3 separate regions of the Homo sapiens genome follow, and all the other regions are reported to be linked to region 3. The links are microRNA targets in miRTarBase. Many come from high-throughput screens and were not tested one by one. Region 3 holds a microRNA gene; each other region holds the end of a gene's coding sequence.

Region 1 (4,243 bases), not on the chromosome of region 3:
GCTGGAGTGCTGTGGCGCTATCTCAGGCTCACTGCAAGCTCCGCCTCCCGGGTTCACACCATTCTCCTGCCTCAGCCTCCGGAGTAGCTGGGACTACAGGCGCCCGCCACCACGCCCAGCTAATTTTTTGTGTATTTTTAGTAGAGACAGGGTTTCACCGTGTTAGCCAGGATGGTCTCGATCTCTGACCTCATGATCCGCCTGCCTCTGCCTCCTAAAGTGCTGGGATTACAGGCGTGAGCCACCACGCCTGGCCAGGTTCTGTTCTTAACCTGAAATGATACTCAGGAGCACCCCTGAGGCTTCTCTTCTGCTTCCTCCCCACAGCAGCAGTGTTGTACTGCTACTTCTATAAACGGACAGCCGTAAGACTAGGCGATCCTCACTTCTACCAGGACTCTTTGTGGCTGCGCAAGGAGTTCATGCAAGTTCGAAGGTGACCTCTTGTCACACTGATGGATACTTTTCCTTCCTGATAGAAGCCACATTTGCTGCTTTGCAGGGAGAGTTGGCCCTATGCATGGGCAAACAGCTGGACTTTCCAAGGAAGGTTCAGACTAGCTGTGTTCAGCATTCAAGAAGGAAGATCCTCCCTCTTGCACAATTAGAGTGTCCCCATCGGTCTCCAGTGCGGCATCCCTTCCTTGCCTTCTACCTCTGTTCCACCCCCTTTCCTTCCTTTCCTCTCTGTACCATTCATTCTCCCTGACCGGCCTTTCTTGCCGAGGGTTCTGTGGCTCTTACCCTTGTGAAGCTTTTCCTTTAGCCTGGGACAGAAGGACCTCCCAGCCCCCAAAGGATCTCCCAGTGACCAAAGGATGCGAAGAGTGATAGTTACGTGCTCCTGACTGATCACACCGCAGACATTTAGATTTTTATACCCAAGGCACTTTAAAAAAATGTTTTATAAATAGAGAATAAATTGAATTCTTGTTCCATAAATGGGGGAGTCTGTCTGTCTAGCTAGATCTCTTCATGTTAAGAGGCGTGCCAAGGTCCAGCTTAACATCTACTTGACCCAGAGGGAAGATGGAGCCACAGATGAAATACAGATCTTTGTTGAGATCCATTATGAGTACAAAGTATTTTAGCAGAAATTCAAGATGGAATCTGATGCTGCATCCCCCACTCCTGGAGCTCCAGATGTGTGTGCTCTGTTCAGACTCTCTTTCCTTATCAGAAGCCTTAACTGCCCTCAGAAGAATAAAAATATTCCCTTAGCCAGCTTTGGCAAAAGAAATTTTTAAAATTCTTATGTCCGTAGTATCAGTTTTCTATTGCCAGAATATTGTGTAACTCCACCACCAAAGTTCAGGGGCATACAGCAATCAACAGCTGCCTGGCTCTTTGTCTTGGGGTTCAGCTGATCAAGGCTGTGTGTGGGTGGTTTCATCTGGGCTCACTCTTGTGTCTGTCAGCTGCAGGTCAGCTAGGCAGCTGCGATGGCCTTGGGATCCACTGGCAGTTGGCTAGCCTTCATTGACCTCAGCTGGAGTGACTGTGGTTACTCAGCTCTAGTTTGCAGATTTACTTCCCACAGACTAGCCTGGATCTGCTCACACGCCAGTGGCAGAGCGGGAAAGTCCCAGTATGCAACCCCATTTCAAGCCTGTGCTTGTCTTGTGTCTCCTAGACTCCTGTTGATCAAGGCAAGTCACGCAACTAAGCCCAGAAACAAAGTGGCAAACGGTTACCAACCACAAGTTCTTAGACTCTCATTGCTATAGAAATTGACATGAGGCTAAAAGAATTTGCCGACAAGGCTTCATTGGAGCTTATGCCTGGGCATAAGAGACACAACACAAGTCAAAGAGAGAGTTCCCTGACTGACTCCAAACAAAGCCTGCAGGGATTTTTCTCTTAGGCAAAGCACTGGAATTGACCTCGGGTAGGGTAGGCAGGCTGGGCTGGACAAAGCACGTGAGGGTAGGGTGTGCAGGTCAGCATCTGGTTGTAAGGGTTATCTTGAATAATGGACCACCAGGTAGTCTAGCCAATGGCAGCAAATCTGTATTCTTTCCTGAGGAGGGACAGTCCACACACAATGTTGGTTTGATATTTTGGACCTCCTAAGGCCAGTTCCTGGAATTCTTTAAGTAAAAGGCCTGGTTAAACATTGTGAGAGCACAGAAGATGAATACAAAATGGCGATTTTCTTTGTATGACTAAAGCGTTGATGATAGTGGATACATCAGCAAGGTAGAGGGGTGGGTTTTGTGGTCAGTGGGGATGCATGAAAGGATGCTGTAGTGGGGGTGAGCTGAAGCCACACCCTGTCTCTACTCTGTCTCAAAAGCACTACAAATTTTCAAGGGCAAAGGCATGGATACAGAGAGAGTAAAGAATGGGGGCCATTAATTCACCCAGTCTCTCACACCAGAGAGCTGCTCTGTGAAACTTGTTCTTCAGAGATGCTTTGGCAGGGTCGCCAAGCTTTTTTTAAGAAGGGTCAGATAGTAAATATTCGAGGTCTTGAGGGTACAACCACTTAACCACGACACTGAAGCATGAAAGCTTCCATAGACTATAGGATACATAGGAAACGGGAAAGTGTGGGTGGTTTCAGCTGGGCTCGCTCATGTGTCAGCTGCAGGTCAGCTAGGCAGCTGTGATGGCCTTGGGATCCATTGGCAGTTGGCTAGCCTGCAGTGACCTCAGCTGGGGGCCCCCAAACATCTCAGGACCCCCAAACTCATTATGCCAAAGGGAAAGTTAAGCCTGGAGACTGAGTCACGCAACACCGCCCCCCTCTCCCAAATAAATGAATTTATTTTATTTTATTTTGAGATGGAGTCTAGCTCTGTCACCAGGCTGGTGTGCAGTGGTGCGATCTCAGCTCACTACAACTTCCGCCTCCTGGGTTCAAGTGATTCTCCTGCCTCAGCCTTCCCAGTAGCTGGGATTATAGGCACGTGCCGCCACGCCCAGCTAATTTTTGTATTTTTAGTAGAGATGGGACTTCACCATGTTGGCCAGGATGGTCTCGATCTCCTGACCTTGTGATCTGCCCCCCTCGGCCTCCCAAAGTGCTGGGATTACAGGACTGAGCCACCATTCCCAGCCCCAAATGAATTTCTGTTACTTCACAGCCTTTTGTCAAAGCATTATGCCTTAGGCCGACCCCACACCCCCAGGGAAAGGAAAAAAGCCTCAGGCATCCTTAGATGACTGCCCTCAGAAATTGTTCTGTGCTGGCTTTGAACCCTTTCAAGATGTCCTATAAAACAAGGACATGCCAATTCTTACTTCAGGTCTGCCTGCAATCTAAGTCTAGCTCCTAAAGTAAGAGTTTGTTAGATTTCACACTGATGATGCTTGTATTGATGAAAAAGAAAGCCGAACTCTAAAATACTTGAAGAGATGTATTATTCTGAGCCAATGTGAGGACAATAATCCATGACAAAGCCCCAGGAGGTCCTGAGAACACGTGCCCAAGATGGTTGGGTTACAGCTTGATTTTATGTATTTTAGGGGGACAGAAGTTACAATCAGAGACATAAATCAATAGACGCAAGGTGTACATTGATTTTGCCCAGAAAGGCAGGACATCTCAAAAGGGGAAGCCTTGCAAGTCAGGTGGATTTAAAGATTTCTGATTGGCAACTGGTTGAAAGGGTTAAATTTGGGCCGGGCACAGTGGCTCACACCTGTAATCCCAGCACTTTGGGAGGTCGAGGTGGGGTGGATCACGAGGTCAAGAGTTCAGGACCAGCCTGGCCAACGTGGTGAAACCCTGTCTCTGCTAAGAATACAAAAATTAGGCAGGTGTGGTGGCACATGCGTGTAATCCCAGCTACTCAGGAGGCTGAGGCAGGAGAATTGCTTGAACCTGGGAGGCAGAGGTTGCAGTGAGCCAAGATTGTACCACTGCCCTCCAGCCTGGGCAACAGAGCAAGACTCTGTCTCAGAAAAAAAAAAAAAAAAAGTTAAATTCTGCCTAAAGAATTGAAGTATTCAATTCTACCTAAAGTGTTGAAGTCCACAGAAATGTTTGCAGTTAAGATCATGAGAGGGTATAGAAGGCAAGGTTCTTGGTTTTGTTTTGTTTTTGAGATGGAGTCTCACTCTGTCTCCCAGGCTGGAGTGCAATGGCATGATCTCAGCTCACTGCAACCTCTGCCTCTTGGGTTTAAATGATTCTCCTGCCTCAGCCTCCTGAGTTGCTGGGATTGCAGGCGTGCACCACCGTGCCCAGCCGGAAAACATTCTTTCTCAAAAAAAAAAAAAAAAAAGCTGGGTGCGG
Region 2 (4,243 bases), not on the chromosome of region 3:
AGCCTGGGTGACACAGCAAGACTCCATCTCAAAAAAAAAAAAAAAGTGCTTATGGTACATATCATGTAATTATGAACTGTTAAAAATGGTTTTATAAGTATGTTCCATGATGTAAAAATGTCAACACTTAGAAAAAGCACATGGACATCCTGCTTTATTACATGATTACACCTGAAGGTTGTGCTGCCATGCACATTAATATGTAATGCGGGCGTTGTTTATGGGGTTCTTTGCAGCACCAGATGCCTCTCTTCCGGAAGAAGATGGTGTGGGAAATCCTTCATCAGCAGTTGCTGTGAGAAAACTTTGCCTGGTCCCTCTAGCTGCTGGTGGTTCTTTCACAGACATTTCCATATACCTCATGCATTGTGGGTTAAAAAGTCCCTGCATCACTTCTGTTCTCACAGGTACTGAGCTGTCAAAAGTGCATGAAGGCCTCTCACTGTACTCTAGTCCTGACTTGGGGTGCAGAGGGCTGCTTGCAATCCTGTTTGTAAGGCTGTGCCTGCTCAGAGCTTTGGACTGTTCAACCCACACAAGAACAAACGCTAACTAATATTTTTTTTAAGAGATTCTTTTCCCTATGAATGTGGGAAATGCAGGATTTATTCTGTGAATTGTTTGTTTCTGTGTGTTTGTTCAGCGTATTCATTCACTCACTCGTTTGCAAACATAATGGGCAGTGGTCATTTACTGCTGCTCTTTTACAGTTAGCTCTAAATTACTTGTTTGAACTATTTATTTCTGAAAGGAATGTTACTCAAGCTGCCACTCCCTGCTGAAGAGCAGGAGGGAACTCTCACTGGGGGCGGAAGGAAGTGGAGCTGGAGCAGTAACTGCCAACATGAAGCTGGAGGGTTTGGGATTTTTTTTGTTTTTGTTTTTTTGAGGCTCAAAAAATGCTGGGAGAAATGAAAATGCTGTGGGATAGGGCTCCTGTTGCCTTTCAGAGGAAGTCTGACACTACAGCGTTGGCACAGTGCCGTGAACAGTGGAACTGTGCCCAAGGGACTCTGATTATCCAAGCATCTTCCGAAGAGTGTTGTGGTCACCTTAAAGAGACTTCCCCTTCTGGAAATGTGGTGACTTGGCTTAGTCTTCAAACTGGATTCATGGATTTGAAGTAACTGTAAACCCTAAATCTTCATTTTCATCCCAGATCTGGTTGAGTATAAACCTCAGAATTGTAGGGGCTGGCCTGAGCTGTTTATTTCAAAAGATACTATTCAATTTAAAGCTATTTTTCCTCAGAGTTTTTGTTTTCTATATATTAAGTCTAAATTAAGTTTTCTACTCATTAAGACTAACATCTCCCCACTCCATCCCCACTGAAATTTGTGGAAGAAAATTTAGTACTTGGCTCTGAGGTTGCCAGTTATACAATAATCTATTTTGCATATGAAAGTTTGTATTTAACTTTTTTGTTCATTAAAAACCTTACTGATATGGTTATAACTTCAGACAGTTTAGAGTTGGTCAGAACATATTTTGCAAGATCTAGTGCCTAGTGTTGCTTTTCTGATGTAATAAAAGGTGGTCTGGCAGAACCTAAAAAAGTATATGCTGAAATGATTTCTAACCCTCTCCCTACTTAAACCTCCCAGACTTGTTCTGGTTCATAAAAGCAAGAGGTAAAACTGGAAAAATTGTGCACGTGTTACCTATGAATCTACACGCCTGCCATTTGCAGTGCTCCGGCTGCTGGTCCCAGAGGTATACTGGTTACAGCTATTGCAGCCAGTTCCCTGAGACTTGTAAAACTCCTGGTTTAGGACATGGGGCCTGTGGTGTGGATGGAAAATGCTGGGCCTACTGGATGGTCAGCCAGAGGCCATGTGGTGGGTGATGACTGAAGCGGGAGCAGGTTGTACCACACCTCTCCCCCCCCCCTCCCACTCCCCCTCCCTCCCTCTCCCCTCCCCCTCCCTCCCTCCCCCCTCCCTCCCTCCCCCCCCTCCCCCTCCCTCCCCCTCCCTCTCTCCCTAACACCCACCCTCCCCCTTTCCCCCACCCTCCCCCCTTCTCCCCTTTCCCCACCCTCCCTCCCCCCTTCCCCCTCCCCCCCCCCCCCCCGCAGCCCCTGCTCCTTTCTCTGGGCTCCTGGCATTGTGCCAGTGAGTGCTGGGACCAGGTAATGAGCACAGCCAAAAAGGCCAGAGGTTCACTAGGTCAGCATCATACCAAACGCCTGGCTTTCACCAGGCATCAGTGTGCTTCACTTGAGAGTTTGGTACCATGGTTAAGATCGAGTCCATGCTAGGTAAGTCCTGTTAGGAATGTCAGTTTGTATTCCGCCCACGTGAATGATGCTGAGCTTAATGTATTATTTTGAGGGGCTTCTTCAGAGCAGTTCTCACTGAGCTTTCCATTAACCTACACTCTTCCGGACGGCTCTTAAAACTTGCAGGACATAATGAAATTGGGAAGAGCAGAGTGTTGAAGTCTATAGCATGGCCTTCTGCTTGACCCTGAGTTCCTGAATTGAATGTGGGAGACCACAGGCCATACTTCTCTAGGCACTCACATGTCTCCCTTGGCATAAGGAAACATGTTAGTAATATAGTTTTTTAGATCCAAACAGTTTATTTGGATCTAAAAGTTTAAGTGTTCAGTTGAAAAACAGCTATTGATTTTATTAGTAGCAAATTATCACCATTAAAGCCAGTGGTTTTTTTTTTGTTTTTTTTTTTTGTTTTTTTTTTTTTTTTTTGCGACAGAGTCTCTTGTCGCCCAGGCTGGAGTACAATGGTGTGATCTCAGCTCACTGCAACCTCCGCCTCCCAGGTTCAAGCGATTCTCCTGCCTCAGCCTCCTGCGTAGCTGGGATTACAGGTGCCCACCACCACACCCTGCTAATTTTTGTACTTTTAGTAGAGATGGGGTTTCGCCATGTTGGCCAGGCTGGTCTTGAACTGCTGACCTCAGGTGATCCACCCGCCTCGGCCTCCCAAAGTGCTGGTATTACAGTCATGAGCCACCTCACCCAGCCTGTTTTTGAGACGGAGTTTCACTTTTGTCGCCCAGGCTGGAGTGCAATGGCGCTATCTCAGCTCACTGCAACCCCCACCTCCCAGGTTCAAGCGATTCTCCTGCCTCAGCCTCCCGAGTAGCTGGGATTACAGGCATGTGCCACCACCCCTGGCTAATTTTGTATTTTTAGTGGAGACGGGGTTTCTCCATGTTGGTCAGGCTGGTCTTAAACTCCCGACCTCAAGTGATCTGCCCGCCTCGGCCTCCCAAAGTGCTGGGATTACAGGCGTGAGCCATTGCACCTGTCCCTGCCAGTGTGTTTTTAAAATAGTTTAGGGGGTTGAGAAAAGATGCAGTGAGCCATTATTCTCCTTTAGCAGGTAGTCTCTTAAAAATTGATGTGGATTTTAAAAATATACCATTGAGAACACGTATCTTTCTCAAACTTGACCTTGAACAGAGCTGGATGGGGGTGGGAGGGAAACAGATTTGGGGCATATGGAAGATATTCTTGGGAGCCCCATATTCTACCTCAGTTACCGAAGGCTATTAGAACCTCTGAATTTTTCCTCCTCTGAAATCCTAAGCACAACTTCAGAAAACCATGTCTGATAGCGGATGTCTTCCTGCTGTGAGGAGCTGCTTGATGTGGGGACCAAGGTGTGGGTGTGGGCGGAATGTATCCTAGTAGAAACAGTGAACCTCAGATATGAATAAATAAGCAAGAGACCGAAAGTTAAGTGTGTGACAACCTCAGTACTGTAGTTAAGCTACATTCTTTAAATTAGCTTTTGTGAACTGATTGGGAACCTAATCTCTTTTGTAACTGTTTGAGAAAAACTCTGAAGCACCTGATATTCAAACAAACTTATGGTACTTACTAACTCATTTGTAAATTGGCGATGTAGCTGGCTGTAGTATTGCTTTGATAATTTTTTTCTTTTAATTTACCTAATATATATAAGGAAGGGGTTTGGATATATTAAAATAGGTGTTAATTTTATCTATTTACCAATAAATTCATCTCTTTAATTCAGTGGCTTTCACTTGTTTTTTATTGCAACTCATAGGAATAAGTATTTTATGTTGTGACCACACACACACACACACACAGTGTGATTGTATATGGACACAAACAACATTGCACATACACTTTTGTGAAGTAATACATATCCTTACTATGATGATAGTTTTATTTCAGTTTTTAAAAACATTTAGGTTGTAACCACCAAGTTGATTTCTCTGCCCACTAATGGACAGATAATGCAGAGAA
Region 3 (4,243 bases):
TCTAACATAAAATTTCATATATGAATATCCAATTTTCCTCATGCCATTTTTTGAGATCATCTTTTTCACACTAATCTGAAATATTACCATTATCAATTATTAAATTCTTATACATGAAATCTGTTTCTGGACTATATTCAATGTTATTGCTATTTTGTCAATTCCTATACTAAGATGATGTTATTTTAATTACTGTAACTTTCGAACACGTATTGATACCTGGTAGAGTCAGCCTTTCTGCCTCATTTTTTTTTTTGTCTTAGTTATGCTTGGCCCTTTGCTCTTTCATATACATTTCGGAATCATTTTGTCAAGTTCCACACACATACACACGCAAATCCTTGTTGCAAGTTTGATTGGAATTGCATTCAATATTACTTCACTTTCCCATCCATGAATGGGAGGGTATATCACTCATTTTATTTAATTTTTTACTATGTTTTCTAAATAATATTATACCTTTTGGCAGACACTGATAGTGTCCACCAAATATCCATGTTCAGATCCGCATTTCCCACTCTACTTTGAAGATAAGTTCAGGTAGCTGGGCAGTTAAGAGCCAGTTTGCCTCTTGCATTCCTTTTTCTCCTTTCTATAACTAACTAGTAGTCCAGATGGCATTGCCACAGTTTGGAAGCTTCCAGGAATCTTGAGTCAGCTCTTAAAGGGAAGCTGTGCCAGAGAGCCACCTGACTCACATTAACTGTAACTGGAGCAAGAAATAAATTGGTGTTGTGTTACAACATGGCTATTTCAGGGATTATGTGTTACCACAGCATAGCGAACATTACCTGACTAATTAAAAAGTCTTGACCATCTTTTATGTATTCCAAGGCATCATATACTGTTTCTTAAACTTTTCTTTTATAATAATTTGCTGTTGATGTATAGGAAAAAAATTAACGTTATATGTTGATCTTGTAGCTAATAACCTTGCTAAACTCTCTTACTAATAATATATCTATAATTCTTTTTAGTTTTCTATGTTGATAATTATATAATCTGTGATCAATGACAGTTTTATTTTTCCTTTTCAATCCTATACATTTTAACTCTTTATCTTGTCTTACTGAACTGCCAAGGACCTCCAATACAATGCTAAACAGAAGTGGTGATACTAGACATACTTCTAATTTTCCTGGCTGTGAAAAAGGTAAGGTTAAAACAGTTCACCGTTAGTGTATGTTTATTGTAGGTTTTATTAAGTTAAGGGAGCTGACTTCTATTTCTAGTTTGCTAAGGAGCTTTTATCATGAATGGGTCTAGAATTTTGACCAAAGCCTTTTCCGCATCTATTTATTGACTGCCTACTATGGGCTAAGCACTGATCATGTTTTTCACTCCTTTCATCTATTAATGTAATAAACCATATTAATAGTTTTTAAATGTTAAATCATCCTTAAATTTCTCCTGGTGACATAGATGCTCCCACCTCTGGGTTCATTGTAAGCCTGTGTGTGTTGCCAGTGCATAGCATAGCTGCTGGCATAATATAGGCAAAATGTTTTACTCATGTTCCTTATTATTTTACTTAATAAATGATATATTTTATTACTGTATTTGTAATATTTCCAGTAGCAGAATACTATAAAACACATATCTTAAATAAATTTGAGTTAGAATAAGGCAGACATGCTCAACCAATCCCAAGAATCATATTGTATATTGTTCCACAAGAAGAGCTAAGAAAAAAATATTTAGTGATTAGAAAAATTATATCACTATCTCAGGTGGTTTTCTTAATTTCTTCATTATACGGTTTTAAGTGGGATTTTAGATTTCATTAATATAAACTCATAGGGAGCAATAAATAGTGGGAAGAAGAGAGATTTGAAGTCAGACAGACTTAGGCTTGAATCCTGTCTCTTTAACTTTCTTAACTATATATCTATCTTTGATCACATTCACCTCCCTGAGTTTATTTCCTTATTTGTAAAACAGGGATAATAATACTTGCTTCATAATGTTGCTATATTTGCATTAAGTAATCAAAAAATAATATAAAATATCTAGCATATTGTGGACCTTAAATAAATGTTAGTTCAAAAATGAGTATGAATAAATGAATATACATTTTTTCCTCAGAAAAATTTAATATGTCGAGAATTCTAAAAATAAAAAATCTATGAATGAGGTGTGCCCAGCTTTACACATCTCTGAATAAATTGGGGTTCTTTGTTTTGACTGTTTATCGGTGGTTGATAATTGTTCCCATTTAGAAATATATTATTAATGTCACAATGCAACAATTTGTGAAATTTATGTTATTAGTCTATATATTCTTACCTTTGGAACTACTGTTAATCCCAAATAGGTATCACGGCTCTATTTTTAAACATTTATATAACAAAACTATCAGTAAATATTATTCAGGGTTTAATTACGTTACTCTACTTTTTTCCTCCAAATAAATAGTTATTCTAATCCACTATATGTTCAGACATTCTCTCTCTCTCTCTCTCTCTCTCTCTTCCCTCCCCCTCTTCTTCTCTCTTGTTCATTTTTGAAGTAATAGAATTATCATTTTGGGGGAGAAACTTGATGTTCTCAAATGTGTTTGGAATAATAATGTTCTAATAAATAAATTTGAGTTTCCCAAACTTTTACATGAGAGTAAAGCACTAGAACCAAGGTCTCTATAGAGAAGAAGAAGCAAAAAGGGGAGAGTGTAGAGAAAGGATGAAAAAAGAAAAGGAGGAGAAGAGGGAGGAGGAGGAGCAAGGTTTCAATTAAGTAACTCAAGTGTAATGTGTGCCCCTCTCAGTTTCCTGTCTGCTGCCAAATCTAGGGAGTTGCTAAACTTCAGTGGTCTACCCCTGAAAATTTTTATTATTAGAGCCATCATTTTCAGTGAGTGGAATGAGGTTAGAAGCTATGTGGTCTCTATATTACTTGGAAAATATATCATTTGGCACTCCTCAATGACATTAGACTGTACATTTCTAGATTGATCTGCACAGTTCTTGTCAATTGGTAGGGATTCAATCTATGTTGAGTTAAACCAACTGAGATAAACTGCATTAAACCCTTTAATTTTACATAACACACCCACCACAGAAAAAATTTAATGGTAGTCCTTATCCCCAAATAATTTTCAAAACAAAGCAATAACAAAAACAGTCACTGAAGGGTAACTTATTGAAGGTATGAGAAGTTTTCATTGAAAATGCTCCCAAGTGACAGGCTTACAGTTCATAAATAAAGATGACAATGCAATGGCCCAGTATTTTAAAATCTTAAACACTTTTTTAGTGAAGGCCTGTGAGGTCATGTGAGCTAATATGACAGACACTGAATATTTACTACTCAAAAGCCATTCAGAATCCACTTCTCCCTTGCCTTCATCTACTATGGACGCTGTCTCACATGCAGATAAGAGTGATTATGTGACATGAAAGTAGCCAATACTGAGTATTCTTTGCCCCCAGTTGCAATTTCCTTTGGTGATATGAAAAATGTTTCTAGGTTCATTGTAATATATTAGCACAAAGTTCTTGTCTTGTTTGTTCCTGGAAAAAGTCTTTACAGTCCGTAAGTGCTGTTTTCCAAATTGTTCCCTGTAAGCAAATCAAAGAAAGCCAATCAAAATGACAATGTACATACTTTAATGTTAAATACAAAAAATCAGAATAAAAAATTATTAGTATATATCTCCTGATTTTGTTCACATACACATGAGCAAAGAAAAAATACTTGATGGAAATGAGGCTTATAGGAAACATATTAAAGTAGTAAACTCAAGGTAGGATTTGAAGTGATTTTTATTTTGTTAATTAGAAAATTTTTAATTGAAAAATAATTATATATATTTACGGAGTACAATGTGATGTTTTGATATATGCACACATTATGCAATGTTGAAATCAAGCTGATTCCTATATTTGTCACCTCATCTTAACTTTTTTTTTTGTGGTGTGTATTAGTCCATTCTCATGTTGCTGCAAAGATACTATGCAAGACCGGGTAATTATAAAGGAAAGAGGTTTAATTGACTCACAGTTTAGCATGGCTGGGGAGGCCTCAGGAAACTCACAGTTGTGGTGAAAGGGGAAGCAAACACGTCCTTCTTCACAGGGCTGCAGGAAGGAGAATGAAATGAGTGCCCAGTGAACAGGGAATCCCCTTATAAAACCATCGGATCTCGTGAGAACTAAGTCATTATCAGGAGAACAGGATGAGGGAAACCGCCCCCATGATTCAATTATCTCTGTGGGGACACAGTCAAACCATATCATGGTGCCAG

What was found. The annotated mature microRNA hsa-miR-1321 reads CAGGGAGGUGAAUGUGAU and lies in region 3 at 1,898-1,915, opposite strand. An mRNA with a match to its seed (bases 2 to 7 or 8) in the 3' UTR can be bound and repressed. Matches are read on the target gene's strand: a 7mer-m8 pairs with bases 2 to 8, a 7mer-A1 pairs with bases 2 to 7 and ends in A, and an 8mer does both.
Region 1: miRTarBase lists TMEM138 as a target of hsa-miR-1321. Seed matches in the 3' UTR shown: 7mer-m8 at 589-595.
Region 2: the mRNA of SENP2 is a reported target of hsa-miR-1321. Seed matches in the 3' UTR shown: 7mer-A1 at 1,584-1,590, 7mer-m8 at 1,901-1,907, 7mer-m8 at 1,905-1,911, 7mer-m8 at 1,922-1,928, 7mer-m8 at 1,926-1,932, 7mer-m8 at 1,937-1,943 and 5 more.

What each region holds. Positions count from the first base shown.
Region 1 is chr11:61,368,270-61,372,512 of GRCh38, forward strand. It overlaps TMEM138 (transmembrane protein 138), which reads left to right. Exons shown (of 5, transcript NM_016464.5): 5 at 328-1,240. The coding sequence ends at 440. Among named protein-coding and RNA genes, the nearest start is that of TMEM138, 8.0 kb to the left of the region's middle. RefSeq lists an enhancer at 1,503-1,762.
Region 2 is chr3:185,629,546-185,633,788 of GRCh38, forward strand. SENP2 (SUMO specific peptidase 2) reads left to right here. Exons shown (of 17, transcript NM_021627.3): 17 at 237-4,006. The coding sequence ends at 299. Among named protein-coding and RNA genes, the nearest start is that of SENP2, 45 kb to the left of the region's middle.
Region 3 is chrX:85,833,504-85,837,746 of GRCh38, reverse strand. MIR1321 (microRNA 1321) reads right to left here and starts at 1,967; the gene lies at 1,889-1,967.